3 linked regions of the Homo sapiens genome follow. The protein of the gene in region 2 interacts with the protein of the main gene of each other region in a pairwise test. Each region holds a gene or a part of one and is shown on either strand. Other genes may lie near its edges.

Region 1 (3,653 bases), on a different chromosome or scaffold from region 2:
TTAGTCACTGATGCTGAAGAGTGTCCGTGTGCATTTCAGAAAAGGATACTTATGTTTCATTCTCTTGAAGGAGCTCCTTTAGTTTTCTGCTTTCTAGCAATTACTGTGCCTCTTCCCATGCTCATCTATTTTTTTTTTTTTTTTTTTTTTTTTTTTTTTGAGACCAAGTTTCGCTCTGTTGACCAGGCTGGAGTGCAGCGGTGTGATCTTGATCAGGAGATCAAGCCCACACTCATCTATTTACTCACTTACTCATTTATTTAGCAAGTGTTTAATGAGCCGAGCCCTGATCATTTGTAGAATTGTTATGTACGTGTAAGTAAGATAAGATACAGCCTTTCCCTTAAGCTATAGTGGCCCAGAGAAAAGAGAGGCACCCATACAGGCTTTTACTGTCAAAAGGGATGGCTGCTAACAGAAGGTCTGGGAAACAAATTAATCTCAAGAGGGGGCTGGGCGCGGTGCTTCACACCTGTGATCCCAGCACTTTGGCAGGCCGAGGCGGGAGAATCACCTGAGGTCAGGGGTTCGAGACCAGCCTGACCAACATGGCGAATCCCCATTTCCACTAGAAATACAAAAATTAGCTGGGCGTGGCTGTAATCCCAGCTCCTGGGGAGGCTGAGGCAGGAGAATCGCTTGAATCTAGGAGGCAGAGGTTGCGGTGAGCTGAGATCATGCCACTGCACTCCAGCCTGGGCGACAGAGCAAGACTCTGTCTAAAAAATAAAATTAAAAAAAAAAAGTCTCAGGAGAAAGAGACAGAACTTCTTTCAGGGAGAAGGCAGGCTCTCCCTTTCAGGGAGAAGGCAGGTTAGATTCTTGAAGGAATAGTAGCTGTCCTGCAAAAATCTCAGGGCTTTTAAATAACAGGGCAAGTTTGGAAGAACTGAAAGTCGGGAGCCTAAGGCACTAAAACAGAAGGGAGTGACAGGAAATCAAGACCAGGCCATGAAGGACCCCAGGTGCGAGGTGTGGGGATGTTTATTTAATCCCATATACACTGGAAATTTATTGAAGGATTTTTAAGCAGGAAGTTGATAGACTTATGCTTTAAAAAGATATTTTGGCCAGGTGCGGTGGCTCACACCTGTAATCCCAGCACTTTGGGAGGCCAAGGCTGGAAGGTGGCTTGAGGTCAGGAGTTTGACACCAGCCTGGGCAATATAGTGAGGGCCAGTCTCTAGTAAAAAATGAAAAAATTATCTGGGTGTGATTGGACACACCTGTGATCCCAGCTACTGGGGAGGCTGAGACAGGAGGATCGAAAATCACTTGAGCCCAGGAGTTCAAGGCTGCAGTGAGCTATGATCATGCCACTGTACTCCACCCTGGGCAACAGAGTGAGACCCCCGACTCTAAAAAAGGAAAAAAAAGATTTTGGGCCAGGCGTGGTGGCTCACACCTGTAATCCCAGCACTTTGGGAGGCCGAGGCAGGTGGATCACTTGAGGTTAGGAGTTTGAGACCAGCCTGGCCAACATGGCGAAACCCTGTCTCTACTAAAAACACAAAAATTAGCTGGGCACGGTGGTGGGCACCTGTAATCCCAGCCACCTGGGAGGCTGAGGCACAGGAATCACTTGAACCCAGGAGGCAGAAGTTGCAGTGAGCTGAGATCACTGACAGAGTGAGACTCTGTCCCAAAAGAATAAATAGTAATTTAAAAAAAATGAAAAAGGTAGTTTTTGGCAGCAGTGGGTCATGGGGAGATGCTGAGAGACAGAAGAGAAAGGTCGATGTCAAAGGCCACCCTAGACACAAACAGCTGGGAATTCTGGCAATGGGAGAGTGGGATTCGAGGACACTATTGAAGAGTCTCCTTCCATGAAGCGCCCTGGTGACTCGCATCACCTCGCTTCTGCCAGGGCCCAGGAGCATCTGCCTCTGCTGCTCATTACAGTCTTCAGAAATGAGTTTTGCCCAAGACACATCCTAAAGTATCCCCTGGCTCTCTGGTCAGCCCATTGTGTGTCGTCTAGATCCAGATGTGTCTTGGGGCTCAGTGACAAGGGATGGGACTTGCTTCACAAAAGCTACGCTTTCTACCCAGGGCAAGTGCTCACAGAAAGAAAAAGAAGTCAGAGGATTTCCATGGGAGTTCCTGAGAACCGTGGACAACTAACACCTGGGAACAACTGGGGGCAGTTAGGAGGCCCAGCTCCAGCTTGGGGAGGAAACGGGCTTCAGGCCAGCAGCAGTTGGCAGGCAAGGAGGGTCCAGAGTCACCAAGCCCCGCACAGGACACAGAACTGGCCCCAAGCAGGATGGAGGGAGGGAGGGTGTCACTTTGAAAGGTCTATTCTCCTAATCCCTAGGAAATGTTAGCTTTTTCCTAATTATAAGCCCTGCTTATAAAATTCTATCACCATTTCCTTATAACTGTATACAGGATAAGTTCTTCTCATTTTCCTCTCTTTTTGGTTTTGCTCCATTGCTTCCTATTTTTGTTCCAAACTTTTTCTCATACTCACATTGCCCTTAGGAGAAGCTCTTTTGCTAAAGTCACCTCTTCAGTCTTTGCGGGGAGGGAGGACATCCTTGGGCCAAGATCAGTAATAGCTTAGTTTCTAATCATTTTCCTCTTGCACTCAAGTTTTAAGAACTAGCAGCACATCTTAGCTGGTCCTGTTGTTTTTTTTTTTTTTTTTGAGATGGAGTCTCGCTCTGTCGCCCAGGCTGGAGTGCAGTGGCGCGATCTCGGCTCACTGCAAGCTCTGCCTCCTGGGTTCACGCCGTTCTCCTGCTTCAGCCTCCCGAGTAGCTGGGACTATAGGTGCCCGCCACCACGCCTGGCTAATTTTTTGTATTTTTAGTAGAGACGGGGTTTCACCGTGTTAGCCAGGATGGTCTCGATCTCCTGACCTCGTGATCCACCCACCTTGGCCTCCCAAAGTGCTGGGATTACAGACGTGAGCCACCATGCCCGGCCTAGCTGGTCCTGTTCTAATCTGCAGGGCTAAGACTACAGGGCAGGAATTACCAGTCATTGACATTTTCTGCCGTACAGCAAGTGATTTTCAGCCATGATGATGAGATGATCCTCATTGGATCTTTTTGGCACATCCAGAGGAAAAGCACTGTTATTATGAATGGAAGATAAGGGGTTTTTCTGCTATTGCCACCCAAGGTTTGGCTTGAGTCATTACATACTTCCCAGAAGGTTCAGGGGACTTCCAAGGAAAACCCACGAGCTGGCAAAGCATGCTTTCCCTTCAGGAAGAAAGCTATAAATGCCAAGAGTCTCCTTTGTGGCTACCCAATTTCTCTCCTAAAATCTACTCTCACAGGTCTCTGGAGCCCTGGACGTAGAGAATAGTTTCTGATCAGTATGAAGGCTACCTTCATACATGTGTGATCTTACATACATGTGTGACGGTGTGTGAACATAAAGGTCATCACTGAAGCACTTGAAATGGCAAAAGATTGGAAACAACTCATAAGCCCATCCATCAATGAGGAAACTGATTAAATAAACTGTGGTTAATCCATATAATACTTCTTCGAAGCAACAATGAATGAGGAACTACTTTACGAACTGCCCTGGAATGCTCCCTAAGACATATTGACAACTAAAAATAAAGGGCAGCACAGAACAGATAACTTGAAATTTTTTTTTGATTTTTTTTTGCATTTTAAAGAGGAAAAAAATTA
Region 2 (3,653 bases):
TTCCATCCATGCGCCTGGAAGGCCCCAGACATCAAGGCTCTGAGGGGCCAGGCACGGGGAGAACCCAGCAGTGCCCTGCCCTGCAGTCTGAGCTACCAGATTCCTTGTGAAGATAATTTGAGGACCATGACTCACCCAACCACATTTCCTGGGGCCTCAAATTGAAAATTCAGGATGGGCTTTTCTATATGACTGGCTGATATCCAACTATGCCATGGTCTTTACATGCCATGAACATTCTTTCCTGCCAGAGTTCTAAGAATCTGTGTTCTCTGCCTTAGACCTTCTGCAGATGAGCCCACAGGAAGCTCCACGTGTAGCTGAGCTACATGCACCAGGCCTCAGTTTGCCCCAAGTCCCCTGTGTACTCTCTCATGGCCTGTGGCCAAGAAATGTATTCTCTCACTTTGGACTTAGGAGTCCAAAGAGAAGCCCAGAAACAAAATTGCTTGAACTTGAATTTGTGTGCGTGCGCACGTGTGCACGTGGTGGTGAAGGTGTATGTTTTCGGCTGTTCTATGCGTCACTGTCACCAAACTCCCAAATAATAGTAACATTTGTTTAGATGATGTCTGCTGACAAATCACAAACACGACGCTAACTCGCAACTCTCTGCTCCACTGGCACAGAATAGGGCATGGAGCCTGGTGCTGGGTGTCAGCCCATGGTGTTGGGTGTCAGTTCACAGGCTGGGTAAGGGAGGGAAAATAATCCATTCTTTGATATTAGACATGACCCAAAATTTCCTGCTGGCAGCCAAAGGCCTCCTCGCTCAGAGAAGTCATCTGAAAAAAGCTAGCCCAGGGGCAGGAAAGGGCCTCAGGCTGGCGCCCCAGAAGGTGGCCCATCAGTCACTCTGGGAAGACAGATAGACATCGTCAGTCTCTTTTTACAAGTCAAGACAGTAAAATCAAAGTAATAGTTTCCTGGCAGGAAGAAAGAGAATTGCTGGAGCGTTGGAGAGCCATCTCTTAACCTCTGGGGTGACTCAAAGGAAGAGTTGCCTGGTCTGAGAACTTTAGACCAAAGAATTTAAATCATGTGAACTGAAAATGCATGTGTATCCATATATACATGTACATATATGTTTATATACCCAATATAGAAAGGTTACCAGAGACAAAGAAATAGCAACAATAGTTGTTTTGGGGAAGGGAAAGGAAGGGCTGTGGGGTGAGGAAGCATACTTTCACTGAATATCCTCTGTACTGTGTGCATTTTTGCCACATGCATGAACTAAACCTACAAGAAAATAAACAAATAAAAAAAAAGAACACACAGGTGATCCTTTAAGAGAACAGAAGAAGGGATGTTATAACCTCTAAGGAGGCACAGTCTCTAGCAAACAGGCACCTGATAAATACATGTTGAATGGATGAAAAAATGGATTATCTCTTTAATTCAGGGGCATCAGTTTGGAGACAGTAACTTCCAGGACCAGTGGCAGGAGGAGATTCAAGGTGGCTAGGAAAGCTCCTCAAAGCAAACACCAGGGTGCCTCCCTATCCCCAGCCCTTCCCTGTCCCAAAGACAAAGGATAGAAGCCCAGGCATGGCCTATCTTCCTGCTGGATACATTGCCTAATTCAAAGAGAGCTACCAATTCAGTGCTGTCACAAGTCAAAGATTTGAGACGCTAAAATACAGCATCATCAAAAGTCAAGTAAGAATTAAGGTCGGGCGCGGTGGCTCACGCCTGTAGTCCCAGCTACTTGGGTTGCTGAGGCACGAGAATTGCTTGAATCCAGGAGGTGGAGGTTGCAGTGAGCTGAGATCACACCACTACACTCCAGCCTGGGCAACAGAGTGAGACTCTGTCTCAAAAAAAAAAAAAGAATTAAGCAAATGTTAAGAAGGACCACACCTGCATCGCTATGAAGCAAAGTGTGACGTTTAAGCTGGCCCTTTCATGACCCTTGAGGACAAGTAATTCCAGCCCTGTGGCTGGCAGCCAGAGTGCAGCTCCTAAAGTCTTTCCTGTCTTAAAGGGGACAGAAAAAGGGAGGTTCCACTGGCAGCTGAAGCAGAGCCTGGAGGCACTGGGGTCAGAAGGACGGCAGATTTCTCTTCTCTGCCGTGGGCTCAAATGCATTCAGGGCTTCTGGAATACAGACGGACAAGTCTATTGTTGTCCCTCCATGACCTTAAGACTGCGATCCCCTGGCAAGCTCTTCAGTCTTCAAGAGTCTGGTGCGGCAGAAGGTCCTCCTCCTACCCCACACCTCTATGGCCCTGCTGGGATTCTCATTAACGGTGGGCCCCGCCTCCTGTGACCCAGGCTCTGACCCCGGATCTCTAGGTGCAGGGCAGCCCCACAAGACAGATGGGGGTTTGCAGAGCCACCACTCAGTTTGAGACAAGGGACCATCAGGTCCTACCTCTTCAAATGCCTACAGAGCCAGTCCTGGCTCCCTCCTTCAAGGCCTGAAGGTGGCACAGGCAGAGAGAAGCTGCAGGGAAGGGCAGAGTGGATGCAGGCGTCCCCTTAGCCTCTCACTGCAGCGCCCCACACAAGGAGAGCCCTCTTCTTTGAACTTACTTGGCTCTAGGGAATCATCGATCAATGCTGCAACTTCGGAAAATCCCTTCAAATTCTTTCCCACCCCTTGGGTCACATTTGGGAATTCCCACAAGCCTCTTGTCAAGAGACGAATTATGCTCACTTGCCTGTGTAACCCTGAGCCACAATCCCACCCCTTTACCCCACGTCAAAACTGAAGGTGTCATAGGCAGCCACAACTGGGAAAGCACAGGGAGCGAGCCCGCGGAGGGGCAGACGAGGCTCACTCCAAGGCACCTTCTCTACAAGAGTCTCTCCAGCCTTTGACGGGTGCAGAAACTAGACGGGCCCACCGAAAGCAGAACGGCACATCTGAGCCTGGATTACTCCACAGGTGAAAGTGCAGGAGAGAATATGTCTGTCTGCTCCCAGCACCCATGCCTGCCTGCCTACCTCGGCCTTATCCAGGCCCTTCTTCTGTTGCAGGCTGAGCACAGCCAGGTTCCAGTCTGTGTTAAGAACAGCACTCTCTGCAACACAGTGGCTCTGCCTGTTTCTGACCCTGTCAGGGTATAAAAGCTTCTGATACTCTCAGGTATAAAAGAGGTGGTGGTAAGTGATAACTCTGGTGGTGGGCTGGTCTGGGAGAGACAGAAGACCATAGGGAACTGGAAAGGGATACCTGTGAGGGAGGACGGCTCCTCCCAAACCTGCTCCTTAGGAAAGTAGGAGAAGCAGAGGTGCTTGGAGGCAGGGCACGGGGCCAAGGGGCCTGAGTAGAAGTCTGGGCTAAGCTACTCCACAGCTCGGGCTGAGGAGGAGATGCCTTGGGTTGGTCACCATGGTTCCTGCCTGCCAGTGCTTCAGAACACGGGCCTGCCTGGATCTGCTGGTGTCAAGGGGAATGGAGAAAATGGAAACACCCCACCCGAGGGCTCCAGATGCGGGTGGAAGCACAGGTGGCTGCCCAGACCACTTGGCTGGTAAGGAATGGCCTATGTAGTCATGGGCACAAACATCACCCCATTTTACCTCTTGGGTGGGAGGACAGCCAGAAAGGGCTTTAAGCTGACCCATTAAAGCAAAAGCACTTATGTATGACAGGTATCCACCCAGTCCCCACAGAGAGCTCAGGCCAACCCTTGTTGGTTAAT
Region 3 (3,653 bases), on a different chromosome or scaffold from region 2:
TAATTTTTAAATAGCAAAACTCAACCTAATGAATAAAGCAGATAAAATTTAGTAAACAGAAAACAAAGGTTTACATAAAATTAGCTGACACTTCAATAGAGACGATCTCCTTAACATATATTTCTACTACTGAGATGGTTATCACTAAACTTTTAGCAGTATCACCAAAACTTTTCACCAGCCTCAATCCATCTTAAAAGTCTAAATATTCCAGGTTTCCTAACCCTTTGAACGTAATGTGCTCTATCTTGATCACATATCCAAGATTCAATATGAATCCAGTCCACCTTTTTAAGCATATGACCACCTATCACAAACTCCATTCTGCTCAGACTGATATATCCACTGCGTGGCCTCCAAAATGTATATTTCATATTGTACCTACTATCCTTTTCATTGGAAGAAAATATAATTTTCTGTAGATGGTTAACGGCTTCTAACTCAGCTAAATCACAAATCTTGGTTTAAAATGTATATCAGTAAATTTTCCTCCAACAATTTCACATGAATAAATCCTACAATAGAAATAAAGTTGTTTTGTAAGGCATCTAAAAAAGCAGCTAAATTTATAAAACCTTAAAATCTGACATTTCACGCTTTCTACAAAAAAGCATTAATTCATCATGAACTACACTTTAACTTAAATTTTATTCTGATTTATTGCATTTATTTTATTTAATAACTATCATTTTAAAAATTAAAGAGCTCTGTGATTTACTTATATATGTACACCAAGCAAATTATTCAAATAGATTGACATTAATGTACTTATTTAAAAGGAATACTAACAGAAGTTATATTCTGCATTGACCAAAGGTAATAATTTGAAAAGCTGTATAATCTAGATATTTTCATTCTAGTCATATACAGAATAGCTAATGCTTTATAAGAAGAAAAATAAATTAAGCTATTTTATTGTAGTAATAAGGAATTTTACAGAAGAGATGACTAAAATAAGAAAAACATCATGTATTTTTCAGTGTGCCTTGTAATTTTATAACCTATTAATTTTATATCTGAACATATTGCTTGAATTAAGGTTGAGTTCTGGTCTTAAATGACCCTTAAACATCCAATTAACATTTCCTGTTTTACTATTTATCAGACTTGCTTGCACTTTGATATATTCCACTGGTGTTCTTATGAAAACCATATGAGATTAGAGCAAGGAAATTTAAAGAGTATTTCTTCAAATAACAGGGGCCTGTTGCGGGGTCGGGACGCAAGGGGAGGGAGAGCATTAGGACAAATACCTAATGCATGCAGGGCTCAAAACCTAGATGACGGGCTGATGGGTGCAGCAAACCACCATGGCACATGTATACCTATGTAACAAACCTGCATGTTCTGCACATGTATCTCAGAATTTAAAGTAAAATTTTATATAAAATAAAATTATGAGACATCCAAAAAAAATTTTTAGTAGATAAATCTATAATTACCCAGTAAAAAGCAATGAGATTTTATGTTATAGAACTTTTCCATGAAATCTAATAATTATGTCTGTTCATATTAAAGTACAGCTATGAGTCAGAATGTTGGCAGACCTGGAAGAACCCTATAGCAGTATATATTTCCAACGATCATTTCACTAACATAACAGTCCAACTCAGTTTCCCCAATCCAACTCAGTATATACTCCCACAATGACCTCAGAAACAAGTTTTGAAGGCTAGAAAAAGTTAAAACCTCATTTTATACCCGAATATTATGTAAATACAAGGAAATAAACCCAGCCAAGTTTGCCAACGTAACTATCTTAGGCAAATTACATAACACGGCCAGTCCTTAGTTGCAGAATTCAAGATCCACTTACCTTGAAAAGCAGCCGCATTTCGAGATATTAGAAACTTTAATGTAGAGCTGGACGTTTGAAGAAACTGCTGCATATCCTGGCGAGCCGCAATCTGATATCTCTCCTCCATCTTCCTGGTGCAACATGTAGGCTTTTTGGATATGCAAACCTGAAGATCAGGTCCTGGAACACACAACATTTTTCAGAATGATTACCTGTTCATTTAACAAGTATTACATATTATATATCAGGCGTTATGACCAGTCCTGCACACAAAGGACTATGTGAGGAATGGATTTGCTAGAGTACTTGCTATAAGAAAGTTTATCTATTGCTCATTAACACAATCATAAACAAAATATTCTAAACCATTAACTCTTTGCTCAAATATTATATTAACTTCTTGGTCAAATATTAAGTATCTCCACTCAATAGAAAGCAAATTAACTACTATGAAGTACAGCGCTCAATCAAGAAAAAGGTTTTTTGTGGGTTTTTTGCTTATTTTATCAATTCAGCCAAAATTGCTTGAAAGAAATATGTTATAGATAATTATGTGGACTAAAAGAATTGCTTTTCATGGGGAAATGAAACTGAATTTTGAACATCACATAAAGGTCAAAAAACTTGACCTGATTTCTCAGCTGCCATCAGGCTCGTGCTGCTTGTGAAGTAGGCTATCTCTGCAATAATGACATGCTGGGAGATCAAGGCCCCCATGGGCCCAAGCTCAGCATCCAAGATTCCACTCACTATATAGCTGGCGAGAGACAATCCCCTCCTTTAAAAGCACTTTTTAGTTGTACAATCATGTTTAGAAGGATCCTGTGAAGATGTATATTGCATGAAATGTAAAGTTATTAATATATGAAATGTAAGAGTTATGGTTACAAAAAAACCTTTGCTAGTATCACTAAACTTTCATCCTGGTAGGGACCCAGGACAAGCACCTTTATGCACAGCAGATATGCTAGAGGACAGAGAGGAAAGATGTGGAGCACAAAGAGTTAGTGCCCAAAGAGGAAACCCTGATGGAGAGAGCTGATGTGAGCCCCAGGGCATTCCAAGGCTACTAGATTATAAGTAAAGCTCAGGACAATTTTATTTACATAATGGCCTAATACGGTTATTTCCTTACTTTAGAATAACAAGAAGAATTGTGGCCCTTAATCTCTGTGAGTTTCACAGGTTCCACATTAGTTCTTCATCAACTAATTTTAGATCAGTAAAATAGGTGCATGCACACAGACATACACACAAGACGCATGCACATAACAACCACCTTTCAAGCCCTTCCTACTTTTTCCACACAGAGTTGGCCTCAGGTCTCAAATTTCCAAAAGTTGGTTCTGGGTCAGCTGAAAATATATGAAACCACTCTGAGCTTCCTATCAACATGGGACACCAAAATCTCTAACGATTTTGGCTGTAGTTTAAGTCAGACAAATAACAAATGACAGAATTTTGACACTTTACAAAGGCTAAGAAGCATAAAATATTCGTAAGTGTCACAGTAGGTAACATTTTGGCAATCGTTTTTCACTTATCTTACCTAAAGTTACGTAAGAGCAAATTCTACTTCAAACAGTAAAATTATTTGAAAAAAAAAAAAAAGCTATCTTCTCAGCTTTATTCCTAAATTGAAGGATTGAGGAATTAGCATCCAGAGAAAAGCAATAATAGAGATTGAGGAAAAGAACTAACGAATAAATATTAAAGTATATAAACATATTTAGTGTAGGAAAGACTGCTGAGGAATAAAAAGAACAATAACAGCAGATCATAGCAAATATCTCTTTGGAATTTAAATATATAACACTGTTGTGTTAGACCAATTCCTAAACATGGCCTGTGAAGG

Evidence for each region.
Region 1: the proteins of DCPS (region 2) and CHST4 interact in a two-hybrid assay, tested with the Homo sapiens proteins (one large-scale study listed by BioGRID and IntAct).
Region 3: the proteins of DCPS (region 2) and GPC5 interact in a two-hybrid assay, tested with the Homo sapiens proteins (one large-scale study listed by BioGRID and IntAct).

Annotation. Positions count from the first base shown.
Region 1 is NC_000016.10:71,529,416-71,533,068, forward strand, and holds part of CHST4 (carbohydrate sulfotransferase 4), read left to right. Parts: intron 1-3,653.
Region 2 is NC_000011.10:126,338,507-126,342,159, reverse strand, and holds part of DCPS (m7GpppX diphosphatase), read right to left. Parts: intron 445-3,653; exon of another isoform or gene 1-444. UniProt on the Homo sapiens protein: Decapping scavenger enzyme that catalyzes the cleavage of a residual cap structure following the degradation of mRNAs by the 3'->5' exosome-mediated mRNA decay pathway.
Region 3 is NC_000013.11:91,447,086-91,450,738, reverse strand, and holds part of GPC5 (glypican-5 precursor), read right to left. Parts: intron 1,979-3,653; coding exon 1,817-1,978; intron 1-1,816. UniProt on the Homo sapiens protein: Cell surface proteoglycan that bears heparan sulfate.